Linked DNA regions of Homo sapiens: region 1 is linked to region 2. The links come from fine-mapping of genetic effects on gene expression. A gene starts in region 2. The other region holds a variant in brackets. All regions are shown on one strand. Distances are from middle to middle.

Region 1 (10,280 bases), 52 kb before region 2:
GAGGCCAAGGTGGGTGGATTACCTGTGGTCAGGTGTTTGAGACCAGCCTGGCCAACATGGTGAAACCCTGTCTCTACTAAAAATACAAAAATTAGCCGGGCGTGGTGGCACACGCTTGTAATCCCAGCTACTCGGGAGGCTGAGGCAGGAGAATCACTTGAGCCCGGGAGACAGAGAGAGCCGAGATCATGCCACTGCACTACAGCCTGGCAGACAGAGCAAGACTCTGTCTCAAAAAAAAAGAAAGAACAATGAAAAGATTTAGGTATCAGCTACAGATCTGGCAGTCATCAATATTATTAATTGTAACTAAAGCAACGGGAGTGAGTAAGATAGAAAATAAGGTTAGGACAGAACTCTGAATAATGTTACTTAAAGGATGAGAAAAAAGAGCCTAAAAAGTAGACGGAGAAATAGTGTAAGAGTAGAAATAGAACCAGAAGATTACCGGTCACAAAACTAAGAATGAGAAACAAGAGGAATTAAACAATGTGCCAAAGCTGAAGCAAGATAAAAACCTGGGAAGTATGTAATGGGGATTTGGAAGCCCAGGAGTGTTTTATCCACTGCAGTAGTTTGAGGAGCAAATGAATGTAGAGGAAATGGAGACAACAAGTTTAAGTAATTCTTTAACTGACATCAAAGCTTTAAAGGTGGAGTATGTATAGACTGTAATTATGTTATTTCATATAGTCTTACATTCCTATGTATTAGACCAAATACAGAACACAGTAAAACAGAAAACCTACTTTTGTAAGCAGTATTATGGTTTCAAAAGCTGTCCTGTATTGAGTGTGAGAAGAAAGCTGAAATCCAGAAATATCAACCTAAAAAAAAGAGAAGGAAAGAGACAGCCTTTAACATACGAAGAATAGCTATACATTTCTATGTTTTAAAATGTTTTACTCTCTCAAGCTAAAAACAATTTCTCTATACTCTACTTGTTACTTAGTAATTCAAAATAAGTAACAGAAATCGAGGTGTTAAGATAACTTTAATTATTCTGATAAAATTACAGTTATTAATAAAATAAAAAACTAGGATAAGACAATTTGTATGAAGACAATCTCATATATAACTCTAGCATCATCAGTGAAGAATGAAAGAGATACTATGATACTATATAATATGGTAGTATGCTGGAAATCTTAAGGAAATACATGTTGGCAAGTATGGCCAAACTTACATATGATATAGTAAACAATGTCACTTCCATCCCCATATTATAAAAGACTTAGTGGAGTAACATATGCTACCACTTTCTTATTTATAAAAAAATTCTAGAAAAACTAAATTCACTGGTTTTCAATTTATTTGAATATCACATTAGTATACATATGACTTACAACAAAAAGTAGTTGTCTAGTTCTTTCTATATGCTTGAGGAATTTGTGGCCCATTCCTTTGTTCATATGTGCTCCTTCTATTAAACCCGGAAGATCAGCTACTGATATCTAATACAAAGTTAAATGGTTAATGAAAAAGGAAAATGTATGAAAACCGCAAGTTCAATTACATCCCAAAATTTTTAAGATATTTCAAATATAAACAGTTCCTAACTTATGATTACCACTACATCTTTGAAAAGCCAAGTATAAGAGTAAAATTAATGTACAGTATTAAGAATTAAAATTTTGTTATCAGATATTAGAGTCCCATATTTACTATTAATCTAATAATCTAGGAATTTTACAGATTAGTTTAACATTTGTTTATTTATTTATTATTATTATTTTAGAGACAGGATCTTGCTCTGTCACCCAGGCTGGAGTGCAGTGGTGTGACCATAGATCACTGTAGCCTCAAACTCCTGGGCTCAAGCTATGTTCCCACCTCAGTCTCCCAAGTAGCTAAGACTCCAGGTGCGTACCGCCATGCCCAGTTAACTAAAAAAATTTTAGTAGAGACAGGGTCTCGCTATCTTGCACAGGCTGCTCTCAAACTCCTATCCTCAAGTGATCCTCTCACCTTAGCCTCCCAAAGTGCTGGGATTACAGGCGTGAGCCACCACACTAATCCCTAGTTTAAAATTTATTTATAATTTCCTAAATGGTATTGTCCAATATGAACTTTTCACAGAATTTCAACCTTTATACTCCAAATTCGTAAAAATCTATGAGGTTATTAATTCAGCAGACATTTACCAGGTACAGCTCTGTATTTTAAATTCAATTTGTAATTATTTATTTGGCACCAATTGTTCCTTTTCTGTTCATATTATACTAGCAGGATTATCGACCATTCTTACAAAGTATTAGGTTGGTATAAAAGTAACTGTGGTTTTGGCATTACTTTTAAGAGACTTTACTACATTAATAGAGGTGTGATTCTCCTCACCTGTTCTTTGCAGTGCCATGTTTGTTAATGCTTCACATTTTTGTAGGTCATTATTGTTTATACTTAAGCAAATCTCATGGCATTACATGAGGAGCAGAGTTCTATCATCTAGAAGTTCATTCACCTGAGCATGCTTCCTTGTCACCTTGTCATCATCTCATTTTGTGCCAGTATTCAAGTAAGATCAGTCAGGTGAAACAGCACTCGACAAACCCAAGTTGTAGTTGTGGCTCTCCTACTTTCTCCTACTTTTGGCCATTACTTTTAATGGCCAAAACCACAGTTACTTTTGTACCAACATAATAAAAGAATACAGTTTCCTAGACTCCTTTTAGAGGGAATAATCATTATTAACCATCATTTTACACTTGTGCTTTTCTTTTCTTTTTTTGAGAGAGTCTCGCTCTGTCGCCCAGCCTGGAGTGGAGTGGGGCAATCTTGGCTTACTGCAAGCTCCACCTCCCAGGTTCACGCCATTCTCCCGCCTCAGCCTCTGGAGTAGCTGGGACTACAGGCACCCACCACCACACCCATCTAATTTTTTTTTTTTTTTGTATTTTTAGTAGAGACAGGGTTTCACCATGTTAGCCAGGATGGTCTCGATCTCCTAACCTCGTGATCTGCCTGCCTTGGCCTCCCAAAGTGCTGGGATTACAGGTGTAAGCCACCACACCCGGCCACTTGTGCTTTTCAAACCTCACTGTGCATCATAATCACGTAGGGAACTCTTAGAAGCTACAAATGCCCAGGCCCTACCCCCAAGAGATTTAGTTTCAAATCTCTGGGGCCTAAGCATCACTCATCATTGCTGTTCTTAGACCACCCAGATAATTCTGAAGTGCAATAAAGAATGAGAGGCAGTACTCGACATCCCTTGCCCAGTGTAGATAAATAATTCAGGGTCTTAAAGGAAGCTGACAAAGCAGCATGCACAACAGAAGTCTCATGTCCTGAAATTTCCTCTACTGATTTCCCTTAAAAATTCGGTATAAATGATGTTCTCTTTTCCTCTAAATATTGTTCTATATATTCATATTATCCTATATTTAATACAATTTTACTTACAGTTAACATTCTATATTATAACTGGTTTTATCTTTTACTGTTATTATCACTATTATAACCAAATACTTTTTTATGTTTCTTTAAATTATGTCATAAAACTGTATGAACCCATATTGATGCATCGTTAGCACCCAAAGTCTATACTTTACATTGTTGCATTCTTGGTGCTGTACATTCTATGGATTTTAACAAATGTATACTGTGTCTACCATTACAGCAACACAATGTTGCTGTAATATTATATAGTATCATACTTTACTATATGTATTGTACTTTATAGTGTACCCTAAAAGTTCTCTGTACTCTGCTTATTCATCTCTCCTTCCTCCCTAACCCTGGAAATCATTCATTTTTTTTTTTTACTGTCTCCACAGCTTTGCCTTATCCAGAATGTCATATAGTTAGAATCATACAGTATCACACAGTCTTTTCAGATTGGCTTCTCTCACTTAGTATTACGCATTTAAGGTTCCCCTAGGTCTTTTTGAGGCTTGATAGCCCAGTTCTTTTTAGAGCTGAATAATAATCCACTGTCTAAATATATATCACAGTTTATTTACCCATTCACCTACTGAAAGATATCTTGGCCAAGGTTTGGTAATTACAAATAAAGCTGCTATAAGCATCCATGTGCAGACTTCTGTGTGTGCATAACTTTTCAATGTACATGGGTAAATGCTAAGGAGCACAACTACTAGATTGTACATTATATTTTAAATATTGTTACTTTCCTTTTTTTAGTTTTTTTCTAATTATACAGAAGATCCACTGTTGTTACTTGTGAAGGAAAAAATGAATTTTAATAGCTGGTTGAGACCAAAACTCCATTAAAACATTTTCTTTCTCAAAAAAAGAAAAGTTGGAATAAAATCATTACCATGAACTTTAGAGAGCATTTTTAAAAAATGAAGATAAATAATCCAATATAGTAGTAAAAGAAAGACTTGCAATAAGAAGAAACTAAGGCTAAGAAGAAGACATAATGTTGTAGGGATAAACTGGACCTAATCTTTGGAAGAAGAAATTAAATATATTATGATAGTGCTCAGAATTAATTTGACCAGTTTCACTTAGCATAAACAAAATCTTGTTACTTTTTCTCCCCTAACACCACAGAAACAGGCAAAAACTATAATATCCAAGTACGTACCAAAACCAAGTACTTTTGACTTCTAATATAGTGTTTTACTTTAAAAATACCTACCTGTTTGAAATCACTGTACATTATCTTTCCAAGTTCAGGCTTTAATGTTGTAACTAAAAGGAAACACAGCAATAAATTAAGGCTAGAATTTATTTTAGGGCTGGTACTCTCAAAACTGTCTTGGTATTATGCATAAACAATATTTCAATTCAGATTTTGTTCTAATTTGCTAAAATGGAAACTATTATTATCTTTGCTATTTAATATGTACTTGGAGGGCCAAATGTTGTGGCTCATGTCTGTAATCCCAATGCTTTGGGAAGCCAAGGCAGGAGGATCATTTGAAGCTAGGAGTTCAAGATGAGCCTGGGCAGCATAGTGAGACCCTGTTTCTACAAAAAATGTAAAACTAGGCAGACATGGCAGTGCACCTGTAGTCCTAGCTACTCCAGAGGCTGAGGTGGGAGGATTGCTTGAGCCCAGGAGTTCAAAGTTACAGTGAGGTATGATCATGCCACTGTACTCCTGCCTGGGTGACATAGCTAGACCCTGTCTCTAAAATAAATGAATAAATAGTATTTGGAAAAAGACAAACACAGATTTTTATAATCTGTATAGGCCTAATGTAATTACTGAACCTCAACGTTCTTCTATTGCACTTTAAGGTGAGTGATAGATGTTCAGGAGGGTCAGATATTAAGTTTCTATCACTGGATCTGTGGCTGAAATTTTTCTAGTTCCTTCTCATTCAGTTATCCTCTAGTTCCTTCTCATTGTTATCCTTAAGCCTCATCAATCCTACGCTAGCCTCTTTCCTATGACTTTTTGCTCTTCCTTCTCAAGTCCTACATATATTATAACAAATATTGGCCTTGTGATTTATAGCACTTAGTCCAAACTTCACTCTACTTCGTCACAGTCTAATTTTAGAATGGCTTGATTTTATTTTCCAAGTTAATGGCATTCTGTGTCCTTTTAATGATGGCAGAGATCTTATCATACTCACTACTTTTAACCAAAGCTTCTTTTATATCTCATCTAGCTACCACAAGAGCCTACTAACTGGTTGTCTCAGACCCTTCATGTCCCACACCAATCCATTTTCTACATTACAGGCCGAGATCTCTGTGAGGAGCAAACCTAAGCATTTTATCCCTTGCTTAAATGCTTCCAATTGCTCTTAAGATATAAAAATCAAATACAGCCTAAATGGTCTATGTGACATGCTCTCTTACATCTCCAGGCTCATCTCGATTCTTTCCCTTATTTCATGTTCTCTAGACACACAAATCTACTCCCTGCCACCACTAAG[G/C]CTTTGTGTACATACTATTTCCTCTGATTAAAGACCCTTCACCCTCCACTCTATTTTACTAATTACCTCATAATTATTCCTCATATCCCAGTCCAAAAATCACACATCCTTAAGGAAGCCTAGAGCAGTCATCTATACTCTTTCATAGTACCCTTTCATATTCCCTTATATTTATTAGTGATATGTACGCCTTACTCCACTAGTCTACAAACTCAATACAAGTCAAAACAGGAGCTGTTTCTGTTTATCAGTCTTTGTAATCCCAGAACCTAATGTGGCTCCAAAAATAAGTATCTGCTAAATGAATGATAAGTACCTTCCTGGTACTTATCACAGTGCCTGATAAAAGGTAAGTGGTTCATAAAATCCTAACTAAACCAAATAAACGATTCTGTGACAGAAAAATAAATGCAATAAAGTAAGTGTCTAACCTGTTTAAGCAACTTTGCTGAGGGGTATAGAGGTTTCAAAGATTAATGGAAAATATGGCTGGGGAGGGTGGCTCACACCTATAACCCAGCAATTTAGAAGGCCAAGGTGGGAGATCACTTGAGCCTAGGAGTTCAAGACCAGCCTGGGCAACATGGCGAAACCCCTGTCCCCACAAAAAAAAAAAAAAAGTTAGCCAAGCATGGTGGCACATACCTGTAGTCCCATCTACATGGGAGGCTGATGCAGGGGGATGGCTTGAGCCTGGGCTGCAGTGAGCCATGATCATGCAACTGCACTTTGGCCTGTGCAACAGTAGTCTATCTGCCAAAAATTTTTCAGTTAAGGATACCCTCCGAGTTATCATTTTATTCATTCTCAGAGAAATATTAGTCTTTAAAAGTTTACCTCCACTCATTAAAATGTACAATCAAATTACACTTACATGCGTAATCTGCAATTGCAGGTTTTGCATGAGAAACACAACTTAGCAAAGAGGATTTTCCAGCATTTGGGAATCTGAAACAAGAATATAAAATTATACACAAATGTCAATATTATTATCTCTGAATTCCTAACAATTCAAGTAGACTTCATGAATATATTTGGGATTAAAAGTAGAATATAAATGTATTATAAATAATCTTGAAAAACTTGAGAACATACACTTACATAAAAGGTAAAGATAAATTCATGCTGGACACTGAAGATGTTTCAATATTTAAAGTGTATAATAATTATTCCAATTATGATTTAAAAATAAAAACCCATTGGAAGTCATAGAAAAAACAGAAATTAAAGAAAAAAAAGAAAAACACCTGTAACTTTCTAACTCCAGCTATACACTGACAAAACATTACCTTGTTTTGTAAACTGCTTTAAAAAAAAATTTTATAGACAGTTTCAAACATATACAAAAGTAGAGAGGTGTAATGAATTCCATTTAGCTATCACCTAGCTTCAACAAATATTAATACATTGGCAATATACTTCTTAAAATTTGGTTTGAATAGAAATCCAAGTAAGGTCTGTACGTTACAAATACCCGGTGTGTCTCAAATCTATTTTCAAGCTCCCCCTACCATCTTGTTTCCTATCTGCAATTTTATTTTTAAAGAAACTGGGTCAGTTGTCCTACAGAGTTTCTTTTCCAAAGTCTTCATTTTTCTACTAGCACCTACATGGACACTTAACATGCTCTTTTTCCCTCTATTGTCTGCAAAAAATTGGCAGTTTTTATAGAGTCTTAATGTTCAAGTTTTCATATTTTTTTGAAGGAAGTAGGGGAAAACTACTTTATAGTTGCTTGGCCTACTCTTTAAACTGAATCATATAAGGTGAACACTTTTCAATGGTGAAGTGTAATTTACTTAACTAATTTCCTATTGACAGACTTTCAGGTTGTCTACAATTTTTCACTCTAAACAACATTGTAAAAAATGTGTATACAGGTAGACAGACACTGTTAATAGTCATCTCTGGGTGGTGGAATTCATAGACAACTTTTTCTTTATGCAAACAAGTGTGTATTATTTGTTTTTTTAAAATAACTTTAAACAATGCAATGACTATCTTTAAACTTTTGCAACTTTTTTCATCTTTTCATAGCTTAATAGCTCATATCTATTTATTTATTTATTTATTTATTTATTTATTTATTTATCTATTGAGATGGAGTCTCGCTCTGTTGCCCAGGCTGGAGTGCAGTGGCGTGATCTTGGCTCACTGCAAGCTCCACCTCCCGGTTCACGCCATTCTCCTGCCTCAGCCTCCCAAGTAGATGGGACTACAGGCGCCCGCCACAATGCCTGGCTAATTTTTTTTGTATTTTCAGTAGAGATGGGGTTTCACCATATTAGCCAGGATGGTCTCAATCTCCTGACCTCGTGATCTGCCCACCTTGGCCTCCCAGAGTGCTGGGATTACAGGTGTGAGCCACCATGTCCGACCTATTTCTTTTAATGTTTTTATTTCAATAGCTTTAGGGGTACAAGTGATTTTTTTGTTGTTGTTGTTACATGGATACATTGTGTAATGGTGAAGTCCAGGATTTTAGTGTACCCATCACCCAAGTAGTGTACATTGTACCCAACAGATAGTTTTTCATCCCTCCCCATCCTCCTGTCCTCCCTCCGAGTCTCCAATGTCCATTATACCACTCTGCATGCCTCTGTGTACGCACAGCTTAGCTCCCACTTATAAGTGACAATATGTGGCACTTGGATTTCCGTTCCTGAGTTACTTCACTTAGGAAGATGTCCTCATTCTTTTTTATGGCTGAGTAGTATTCTATGGTGTGTGTGTATATATAGATACACACACACACACACACACACACTCAATTTTCTTCATTCATTGGTTGATGGGCACTAAGGTTGATTCCATGTCTTTGCAATTCTGAATGATACTGTGATAAACATGTGTGCAGGTATCTTTTTAATATAATGACTTCTTTTCCTTTGGGTAGATATCCTGTAGTGGGATTGCTGGATGAAATGATATTTCTACTTTCAGTTCTTTGAGAAATCTCCATACTGTTTCCATATAGGTTGTACTAATTTGCATTCTCACTCAACAGTGAATTTTAGTGTACCCATCACCCAAGCAGTGTACATTGTACCCAATAGGTAGTTTTGCATCCCTCACTGCCCTCCTATCCTTCCTCCCTCTGAGTCTCCAATGCCCATTATAACACTCTGTACGTCTTTGTAAGAGTTAAGTTCCAAGATGGCCAAATAGGAACAGCTCTGGTCTACAGCTCCCAGCAAGATCGACACAGAAGATGGGTGATTTCTGCATTTCCAACTGAGGTACCTGGTTCATCTCAATGTGGCGGGTTGGGCAGTGGGTGCAGTGCATGGAGGGCAAACCAAAGCAGGGTGGGGCGTTGCTTCACCCGGGAAGCACAAGGGATCGGGGGATTTTCCTTTCCTAGCCAAGGGAAGTCGTGACAGTCTGTACCTGGAGGAGTGGTACACTCCTGCCTAAATACTGCGCTTTTCCCCAAGTCTTTGCAATCGGCAGACCAGGAAATATCCTCCCGTGCCTGGCTGAGCAGGTCCCAAGCCAACGGAGCCTTGCTCACTGCTAGCGCAGCAGTCTGAGATTGACCTGCCATGAGCTGCAGCTTGGCAGGTGGAGGGGTATCCGCAATTGCTGAGGCTTGAGGAGGCGGTTTTGTGCTGACAGTGTAAACAAAGAGGCCTGGAAGCTCGAAATGGGTGGAGTCCACCACATCTCAGCAAGGCCTACTGCCTCTCTAGATCCAACCTCTCTGGGCAGGGCATATCAGAAAAAATGGCAGCAGACAGCTTTGGCAGACCTTAACGTCCCTGTCTGACAGCTCTGAAGAGAGAGTCGTTCTCCCAGCATGGTGTTCAAGCTCTGAGAAGGGACAGACTGCCTCCTCAAGTGGGTCCCTGACCCCCGAGTAGCCTAACTGGGAGACACCTCCCAGTAGGGGCCAAGAGACACCTCATACAGGGGGTTGCCCCTTTAGGACAAAGCTTCCAGAGCAAAAATCAGGCAGCAATATTTGCTGTTCTGCAGCCTCCGCTGGTGATTCCTAGGCAAACAGGGTCTGAAGTGGACCTCCAGCAACCTCCAAAAGACCTGCAGCGAAGAAGCCCGACTGTTAGAAGGAAAACTAACAAACAGAAAGGAATAGCATCAACATCAACAAAAAGCACATGCACACCAAAACCTCATCGTAGGTCACCAACATCAAAGACCAAAGGTAGATAAAACCACAAAGATGGGGAGAAACCAGAGCAGAAAAGCTGAAAATTCCAAAAACCAGAGTGCCTATTCTCCTCCAAAGGACTGCAGCTCCTCGCCAGCAATGGAACAAAACTGGATGGAGAATGAGTTTGACAAATTAACAGAAGTAGACTTCAGAAGGTTGGTAATAAAAAACTTCACTGAGCTAAGGAGAATGTTCTAATCCATTGCAAAGAAGCTAAAAACCTTCAAAAAAGGTTAGACGAATGGCTA
Region 2 (10,280 bases):
TGCACATCTTTTCTCGCTCCTAAATTAAAAGAGAATTATTTTAGTATTTTACCATAAGAAAGATGTTTGCTGTAGGGTTCTAGTGGATAACATTTATGAGGTTAAGAAAATTTTGTCTAGTCTTAGTTTGCTAAGAGTTGTTTTTGCTTTTTAATCATGAATGGGTGTTGAATTTTATCAATTTATTTTCTTTTAATTTAAAAAAAATTTTTTTTGAGACAGAGTCTCACTCTGTCACCTAGGCTAGAGTGCAATGGCGTGATCTTAGCTCACTGCAACCTCTACCTTCTGGACTCAAGTGATTCTCCCTCTTCAGCCTCTCAAGTAGCTGGGACTATAGGCGTGTGCCACTGTGCCTGGCTAATTTTTGTATTTTTTTGTAGAGACAGGTTTTTGCCATGTTGCCCAGGCTGGTCTCGAACTCGTGAACTCAAGCAATTTGCCCTCCTTGGCCTCCCAAAGTGCTAGGATTACAGGCATGAGCCACCGTGCCCAGCCTCCCATTTAATTTGTGTACATGGTAAATATAGTCATTGATTTTAATATGTTAAACCAATAGTCCCTAACCTTTTTGGCACTGGGGACCAGTTTTGTGGAGGACAAGTTTTCCACAGATGGGGTGGGTGGGGAGGGCAGGGAGGGATGTTTTGGGATGAAACTTTTTCACTTCAGATCATCAGGCGTTAGATTCTCATAAGGAGCAGCAACCTATATCCCTTGCATGTGCAGTTCACACTAAGGTTCACGCTCCTATGAGAATAATGCTGCTGCTGATCTGACAGGAGGCAAAGCTCAGGTGATAATGCTTGCTGGCCCACAGCTCACCTTCTGCTGTACGGCTGGGTCCTTAACAGACCACAGACTGGTACCAATCTACGGCCTGGGCCCCCCTGTGTTAAACTACCCGTGCATCCCTAGGATAATCCAAGCTTGATACTGCTGGGTTTTTTCTAAGTCCTACTGAATTTGGTATGTCAATATTTTGTTTAGAATTTATTTTTATCTGTAATCATTAGTAAGATGGCCTGTGACTTTACTCTTTTTCAGATCGTCCTTGTCTCATTTTGTTAGAATGAGTCTGGGAGATTTCCTTCTTTTCTAATTTTCAGGAAGTACTTGATCCTTGAAAGTTGCCCTGCAAAATCATATGGGCTTGATTTTTTTTTTCCCAGTGGGAAGATTTTAAACTACTTATTCAAGGTCTTTAAACAGCATTTACTATTCTGGCTTTGTAGTTATTCTTACATGACTGTTATAGATTTTTTTCTTTTTTCTTTTTATTTTCCATAGTCTTTCTTTGTCGCCCAGGCTAGAGTGCAGTGGTGCGATCTCGGCTCACTGCAGCCTCCGTCTCCTGGTTTCCACCGATTCTCCTGCCGCAGCCTTCTGGGCAGTTGGGATTACAGGCACGCGCCACCATGCCTGGCTAATTTTTGTATTTTTAGTAGAGATGGGTTTTCGCCATGTTCACCAGGCTGGTCTCGAACTTTGGACCTCAGGTGATCCACCTGCCTCAGCCTCCCAAAGTGCTAGGATTATAGGCGTGAGCCACTGCGCCTGGCCAAGTTTTATAGATATTTTTTCTAGGAATTTATTAATTTAATTTAAAATTTCAAATATATGGTATATGTTGGTTGTTAGTATTCGTGTATCTAGTTTTAATCTTTATTTGCTATCTATAGATATATATCATTTTCTACCTTTCATTTTCTTTCTTGATCAGCCTCATCAGAGGTTGCTTTATTTTATTCAAAGAATCAACTCTTTTTGCCTTAGTTCACTAATGTGTGTTTTTGTAAAATCTCTTAACTTTTGAGAGCCTTTTTTCTGCTATTTTACCAGCTGTTAAATTTGGTTGCATTTATCACTCTATCAGATTTTCAGCCTCTCTTCTTTTGGCACAAGTGTTTAAAGCTGTTAATTTCCTTTAAAGGATCCTCTTACTGGCTTCTCACAAGTTTTGATATGCAATGTTTTTTAATCACACAGTTTGAAATATTTTATAATTTCCATTGTATTTTATTTTAAAATCGATTGTTTAAAGTTATTGCATAAATAAGTACATTTATTGTTTAAATTTCAAAACATGAAAAACTACGTTCTTGTTTTTATATTTCTTAAAACACTTTTTAGACTTTTAAACTTTCTGTGTTGTGGTCAGGCAACGAAGTTTGAGTGATACTAGTTTTTGAAATTTGTTGAGACTTGCTTTAAATTTCATGAGACTTTATTTTTTCTTTTATTTTATTATTATTATACTTTAAGTTTTAGGGTACATGTGCACAACATGCAGGTTTGTTACATATGTATACATGTGCCATGTTGGTGTGCTGCACCCGAGACTTGCTTTATTTTCTAATGGGAGGAATGTGTTCTTTAACTGCAAGTTTCATGGTTCCTTATAACTTGACGGTTCAAATCATCTACACATTTAGTATTATTTATCATCTTAACCTAAAGGCTTGTGGAACTCTCCCACTATGATAGTGAGTTTGTGAAAATTTCCCTCTACTTCTGTCAGTTTTTGTTTTATGTATTCTGTAGCTTCGTTATTAGGTATATCTAAATTTAGAATATTTTTATCTTCTTCCTGAATTGAGTCTTTTATCATTATGTAGTGTTCCCCTTTCTCCTTCATCGTGCTTTTTTGTATTAATAAAGCTGTCAGTTTAAAATACAATTAACATGTGCATGGTATATTTGTTTCCATTCTTTTCAAGTTTCTCTGTCCTCATTTTGGGTGTGTGTATCTTTTGTAAAAGCACATAGCAGAATTTAAAATCCAACCACATCTTCCTTCCTTTAATCAAGAAGTTCAGACTATTATTATGATTGTTGACTTGAATCTTATAAATTTACTTTCTACTTGTCACTTTTGCTGTGCTTTTTTCTCTCTTCTTGCTTTCTCAATTAATTTTTTATTTGTCAATCTGTTTTTCTCCCTGGTTCAAGAGTTTTGTTCTCTATTTCCGTCATTTAGGAATTGCCTGAGAAATTTTACCATACATATTTAACAACTTTGCAAAGTCTAAATTCAATATCTATATCTCACTTTTTACTGTAGATACCAGTTTTAATAAAGCCTAAACTTACTATCTACATCTCACTTTCCTCTCTTCCTTCTCTCTTTCTCTTCTTTCTTCTTTTCCATATTCTGATTCTTTATGCTTTGCCTCCATCCGCCTTTTCCCTGGAGATTTCACTTTCTTGATCACCCAATGATGATTTAAAAATTATGTTTGTCATCATTTTGCCAGATTCTATTTGAATGTAGCAAGTAGACCCTTCAGAAAAATCACTCACATAAAGAATATCTTCTCTCACTGACTTGGGGGTAGACACCAAGAGTAAAATTTCTAGATCACTTTCAGATTAAACAGATAATGCCAGTTTTCTTCCTTGGTGATTATACCAGCTGATAGTCTCATCAAAAGCATATGAAGTGTTCATTTTCTCAAAAAATTGCTGAGATTGTATTTTACCAAATTAATTTTTGTTAAGCTTCATTTGGGGAAGACAATATATCATTTCCTTGAAATGGCTTTGTTATTAAGTCTATCTAAATTTAGAATATTTCAGTATTTTTTCTCATGTTTACTGAATATTAAGGTCTACTCTTCTGTCAATTACCCTTATTTTTCTATTATTGATTTATATAAGTTCTCTATTCAGAATACCATTCCTGTGTGTGTGTTATAATAATCATACCCAAATATGTACTCCTATTTAGTACATTACTCTAATTCTAATATTAGAATATTCTTTAAAAATGCATTTTAATGACAACTATTACCTGTCTCCTTACATTTTTCTGTATTTTACAACTTTTCAATAGGTTTTGAATACTTGTAAACAGATAAAAATGTTTTATGAAAAATAAAGTATATCTTTCAAAAAAGACGGACAGGAACTATGTGGTTACTCAACAGAGAAATTGAGCCAATTCATTTTAGAAGGAAGCCAACATTAACCCAAAGATGGAAGGGGTTGCTTCCTTTGGGGGTGGGGACATGTGCCCAAGGTTAAGTCACATTGGAAAACAGCTTTGGTGGGTGGACAAATTCCTTGGGAGGGTGGTTTGTTCACGTTTCAGCTGGGATGTTGGATTAGGTCACTCTGCATCTCTGCTAATTGTGAGAGTCCATGATTAATGGTGGACTGAAACACTTGGAAGTCTACAGCAGAAGAATATCTGGTGTGAGATGGATTCGTGTATATCCTACCTAATCCGAGTAAACAAGTCTTCCCCTTTTCTCAGTTCTGTTTTGTGCAGGAGGTGGTCCTGCAGATAGAAGGGGCATAAAAAGGCATTGCCAGGGCAGAACTAATGATTGACTACGTTAGCTCCACCAACAGGATGAGAACAGGGTGGAGCTTTGAATAATGGTGGGTGCTGGGAGAAGTGAGCTTTAGCAGGGACAATGACTGGGGAACTGGGCTGTTTGGTTTGGCACTCATCTCACCCCATGATCTCACCATCCCAGCTCAAGAACCTGTGAGAAGGGTGGCCTGCCTGAGGGGAAATGGGGATAAGGCAGCTGGCTTTGATTTCCCTAGCCCCATCTGATCATCGCTGCTGGGCTATAGGCAGAGCAGGTAGACTTAAACTCATATATAGTCCAAGTGATGTGTTGGGGCTGAGATTGATGGACAACATACATATGTGAAATTCAAGGTACTTGCTCGGGTCTTCATCCATGAAGGGATAAAGGAAACATTTCCCCCAGTGTAGAAGCAAGGGTATGTTTGCGCGTGTGTATGTGTTAGCGTTAATAATAAACTGTGTTTAGCTAGAGATTAGAACCGTTCAAGGAGGTTTAGCATTTTAAGAGAGTTCACAGCCTTAAGAGAATTTTTCTCTGGATAGGAGAATACGGTGTGGAGCATGGGTGGGCGGAGGGAGAAGATAACTTGGGTATGTGGACTGACTAATGCCGAGATGGATCTTCTCAGCTAAGAAAAAAGAAGGAACAAAGTAAGAAGGAGAGAGCGAAGAAGACCCTGAGCCTTTGGCATAGCAAGAAAGTCGGAGGAGGGCAGGAGAGGCGAGAGCAGCGGCCAAAGCAGGGCCGCAGGGCGCAGAGGCCCCCGAGGTCTGGAGGCTGGGAAGTTGGGCGAGGTCAGGGAGGGGCCTCGAGAGCGCGGCCACCCACGATCTGCCCCCTCACTCAGCCTCTAGAAAAGGATCGCGGTCCCAGCGGCGGGTCTGTCTCGGGAACCCCGCGTGGCCGCAGCAGAACCGGCAGCTCCACCCGCGGTGAGCCAGTGCCAGCCAGAGCCTCCCAGCGCCGAAGCGCACCGCGGCCGAGACGGTTCCGCTGAGCGAGCTTGGGCGCCCGGTGAGCGCTCGGGGTGGGTGACACAGCGCTGCCTCGCCCAGTTCGCCTGCCTCGGGAAGTGGGTCCGCTGGGCAGAGGGCGCCCTGGGCAGGGGTCGTCCCCGCTGAAACCTCTGGTTCCTCGTGGGCAGGAGGCGCCCCGTCCTCCTCCCAACGAGCGTAGCGCACCCAGGACACCGCGCCGGGACGCGCTCCTCGGACGGCGACCAGAGGTCCTCGACTCCCGCGTGGCCTCCCTCTTCTGCGCCCAGGTGACCTGACCCAGGGCTGGGGGCACAGGGAGAGGCGCTAGCCTGAAATTGAGGGGGAAGAAATTCCCTCTGATACATCATGTATCATAAACTGCCAGCTTTCAGCTCAGTCTGGGGAATTTGCACAATTTTCGACGATGTGAAATGACTTGAATGTCCTGTTTAGATTTGATTCGTATGATTTCTCTCTTCAGCCCAACTTTTTTAGGGAGGTGGCAGACGGCTGTGTACGGGGGGAAAGGTGAGTCCTGTGTTCTGGATCTGTTCTCCTCTCCCTATCCCTCCCCGTTGGCTGTCAATGTTGTAAAAGGGACATTTCCAACAGCAGCCTTGAATAGCAGGTGTGTGGCAATTCAATGCCAACTTAGTCTTTAACTTCCTCTTATGTGCTTTGGGCCGATTTTACCCAACAATCAGTTGGCAAGGAGGCATGCAAAGAGGCATTAGAAAAATGTCAAGATTTTGCTGAATGTAATGGGCCCTGCACTATCTCATCCTACCTTATATCACCTTTGTTTTCGTGCCACTTCATGTATGTCTACGTTCATCTTCTCCAACCAGCTCCTAAACAGAGGGAAGCCAAGAATACACCGGATATTAGTGCGTAACAAGTATTTTTCAATACATGAAAATGGAAATAGCAGTAACTTTGAGACTTAAACGGTGTTTGTGAGATCTAGTACCATTTGGGTTAATAATATCTCAATTAACAACAACAAAATACTTCCTATGTTACATGTAGAAAGGACTGTATTTTGATCCACTTAGTTGAAATGTGTTGTGGTAGGTAGGAGTCTTGGATAGGCAGTCAGGAGTCTGAAGACTTGCGGAACCGTATCACTAATGATCTAATCAGTAAAGGGAGAAGGTTGGAGCATAAGCTCTTTAGGGTTTCTGCCACTTTTAAAGGTCTGTGATGAAATGAACCTTTGCATTTTCATAAATGTGTTGCATTTCAAAGACTCTTGATCAGAACGTTGGAAATCAAACCGGAACTGTAATATCCTAAAGGAAGATGTGATAATCAGTAATTTAGAAAAAATGAATACCTAGTAAGCAGATTTGGCTTGATCAAAAGCAAATATATGTGTACTTACAGTTTTTTAGATCAAGTGATTGAATAACTTTTTTAAGTTAAATATATCCTCTCTCATTTTTTTTTCTGTATAGAATATGTGTTTTGCTACAAGAAGATGGTTCTATCTACATTTGGGCTGCATGATGCTGATCAATCTGGTTAATGCTGACTTTGAGTTTCAAAAAGGAGTGCTTGCCAGCATCAGCCCAGGAATCACCAAAGACATTGATCTCCAGTGCTGGAAAGCTTGCTCTTTGACATTGATAGATCTCAAGGAACTCAAGATAGAGCACAATGTGGATGCTTTTTGGAATTTCATGTTGTTCTTGCAAAAATCTCAGCGGCCTGGACATTATAATGTCTTCTTAAACATAGCTCAGGATTTCTGGGACATGTATGTAGACTGCTTGCTTTCAAGATCTCATGGAATGGGCAGAAGACAGGTGATGCCCCCCAAATATAATTTTCCACAGAAAATAACAGGAGGTAATTTAAATGTGTATTTAAGAGAATAGCAGTTTACTTTTCTTTAAAAGTCACTATTTAATTCTTCTGATTTTTTTCAAGTTATCCAACAAGGTAGCAAATTTACCATATTTAGTTTTTTTCCCTAAAATGATAGGTTTTGATTCTCATTTTTACTCATTTTACATTATTTACAAACCACACAAGCTCTGACTTACAATTTTAAATGATCTTGGAATATAATACACTTTGGTAGATAATTAAAATTATCCTTGTTTGCCCATGAATAGTTCATAAGAAAGCCATTTAACCCTGTAATTATTCATATTACATTTGTTGAAGAAATTTTAAACATCAGACATGTATTTAGGCTTTTGAAATTAATTTTTTCAATAGGGTTGTATAAAAGCAGGAAATTTAAGAGTCATATTGGAATGAATATTAACAATTTCTTCTTTTAAATCTTACAGGACTAGATTTTACAAAATGAGAGTATTACATTTAAGAGAAAACATGTAAAATACCTCAAGCAAGATGACAGCGACCTGAAAACTTGTATTTATGAGGTCAAATATTTCTTGTCATAGTTATACAAATTATTTAATACTGATAAACGTTGTTTTTTGTTGTAATTGCTTTATTGCTATTGAATTATTCCAATATTTTCAGATAATTTCTCAATTTTTTACTTAGAAGGTGTCTTTTTAAAGTGTCTTTGTTTTAAAGAAAACATCAGTTAAAAGGCAAATGTGATATATTTTTTAGATACAATAGTCAATGGAATAAAATTGTAACCAATTTTATAAGGTATCTTATATATTAATATTGACTATTAAACTGTGCCAAAACTAATGGCAGTATTATCCTAAAAAGTAATATTTAATGTAGTATATTTTGTGGTTTCTGAAATGTACATTTCATTACCAAGCCATCTTCTATATTAAAGTATTTTTCTATGCATTAAGGACTAAAACCTTTTTATGTTCTCATTTTTATTGTCTTTGTTTTGAAAAAGGAACAATAAACAAAGACAGAAACTTCATTTCAGTAAAGTACAATTTGATAGAATTTTTGTGTTAGCTGAGTTATTTTTTATATTGCCTATTTATATCTCACATCTTATTTCAAAAAGGATGTGAAGCTTTAAAGAAATATACCGAAGAAAAGGAAAACATGAAGTAGTGGAGGAAATTGGAACATTGGGACATGAAGACAGGGAAGTAATACAATGGAGTTACGGTTTAGATTAATACTTTTTGAATGCATGTCGTAAAAGCCTATACCTTTGATAAAGGGTGCCTATAAATTTGGTCTGTTTCCCACTTCTCCTAGTGAAGAGGGACACATGAACAGTTTCAAGATTCACATGCTTATAAGAAAAACCAAACCATATGTTCAACAGAGGTCCAGCCTTTTCCAGGACAAAGAATCAATGAAAATCTCACCCATAGGTTTTCACAGTGGCTACCATGGTTTACAACACTGGTTTCAAGTATCCTTACAATGACAGATTCTCTCCTTTACAGTCTGATTCCAGTACACTCAAACTCAAATATAAAAAGTTTTAAAATCGGCTAAAATAATACTGAACAAGTAACGAACTGCCTGATGGTTTGACTTGATCCAAGAATAAGCTGAATTAAAGGAGGGACGTTCTTTGCATTATTGACCACTTTCAAATTCTGATGATGTATAGACCATTTATTAGGGGTTTTATATATAAACACTCTTAAAATTACATTTTGCATGTAATTTCAGGGGGCTGCATAAACCCCAGGTTAGGAATTTTCAATATTAAAGGACCTCATAGCGTTCGGCAATATTATTTCATATAACCAATTTTGCATGAGTAGCAGATAATATAAGATTGTAGGGCTAATAATTTCCTAGATTGAAAACTTCTTATCTTGCCAATTAAGGGTGGATCCCTAAGCTCAGAAAATCAACTGGTTGGAGGGTAGGGCTAATTAATGTTCTCATAAAAATGACCAGACAGCGTGTAAACATGAGTGATTTTATGTCCATTAAGCTTTTGATTTGTGGAATTTATATGACAAATAATTAGTCTGATATGAGTTTTTAAATTTCAACATATTTTCATATTGACACTTTATTACTGTTTAGCTCTAATCGAAAAGTGATGATTCATTTGAGAGGAGTCACATTTATGTGACAGGAGTAAAAAGTTGAGTTAATCTTGCCAAGAACTTTCCTGTCCTTTCTCATCTCCATATTGAACATCTGTGTTCTTTATCATTAAACTGCTTTTGGTCTAAAAAAAAAAAAATGACCTGACAGCTATCCACCTAGAATTCATTTCCTGCAGAGGAGCCGAAGTGGTACCTAGAGGCAGTATTACAGTTTTCCTCAAAAAAAACAGTTCTCTTTTACAGTCTGTGGGCAAATGATTGAAGCTCAAAAGTTCAATGCTGTAAAGTGAGACCATGTACTTTTAGTCTAAAAAATTGTTCAACCAGTTGTCCTCAATCACTCATAGTTGTCATGACAATTTTATTGCAGCGATGATAAACATTTTAGCTTAAATCAATAAAATTAGTCTTCCAGTTAATGGCAAAATGGTTTTCTAGTTCTTTTAATTGAATTTACATACTACATTGGGTTAAAAATAAGAACATTTGCTAAACTGGGCAATCTGGTTTTAAAACAACTCATCTTAAGCTTTTTGATGATGATTACATACCGTAAATTCCTCCCCGTTTTTGGCACAAATAGTGTCATCTGCATATAAAAAAACTTTTTCTTTCTGTTCATCATTCATTCATTCAACAAATATTCATTAAGCTTTAGGGTATATTAGTGAACAATCCAGACGTAATCTTTGACTCACAGAGTTGACACTGAAGTGGGACAATGCAGGGATAGACTGAAAGATCTAATTCAAAAGCAATTTTATGATATCAAAATAGAAGATAAAAAAGAAGGTGGTCAAAATGAAGCTGAATTGGGACAATATGTATTTCTCTTTTGTCCTATTCAAAATCATTTGACAGTCTAGAGATCATTTTAAAAAACAAACCACCAATTCTTGCAGTGGTACCATGGTAAAGATTCAGTTTCACAGCTTTGGGTTTATGCTGAGCTCATTTGGCTTAGCTCATAACCGATTATTTTTCAGAGAGCTTAAGGC

Evidence for each region. PIP is the estimated chance that this variant, and not a neighbour inherited with it, causes the effect.
Region 1: its variant is fine-mapped to the expression of FAM237B in thyroid (GTEx, PIP above 0.99).

What each region holds. Positions count from the first base shown.
Region 1 is chr7:90,368,681-90,378,960 of GRCh38, reverse strand. It overlaps GTPBP10 (GTP binding protein 10), which reads right to left. Exons shown (of 10, transcript NM_033107.4): 5 at 6,733-6,806; 6 at 4,607-4,659; 7 at 1,347-1,454; 8 at 750-827. Among named protein-coding and RNA genes, the nearest start is that of GTPBP10, 27 kb to the right of the region's middle. The variant G/C (reference allele first, on the strand shown) is at 5,859.
Region 2 is chr7:90,316,231-90,326,510 of GRCh38, reverse strand. It overlaps FAM237B (family with sequence similarity 237 member B), which reads left to right and starts at 5,207. Exons shown (of 3, transcript NM_001384237.2): 1 at 5,207-5,589; 2 at 5,784-5,830; 3 at 6,760-9,704. The coding sequence starts at 6,763. The coding sequence ends at 7,182. It also overlaps a transcript of CFAP69 not described here.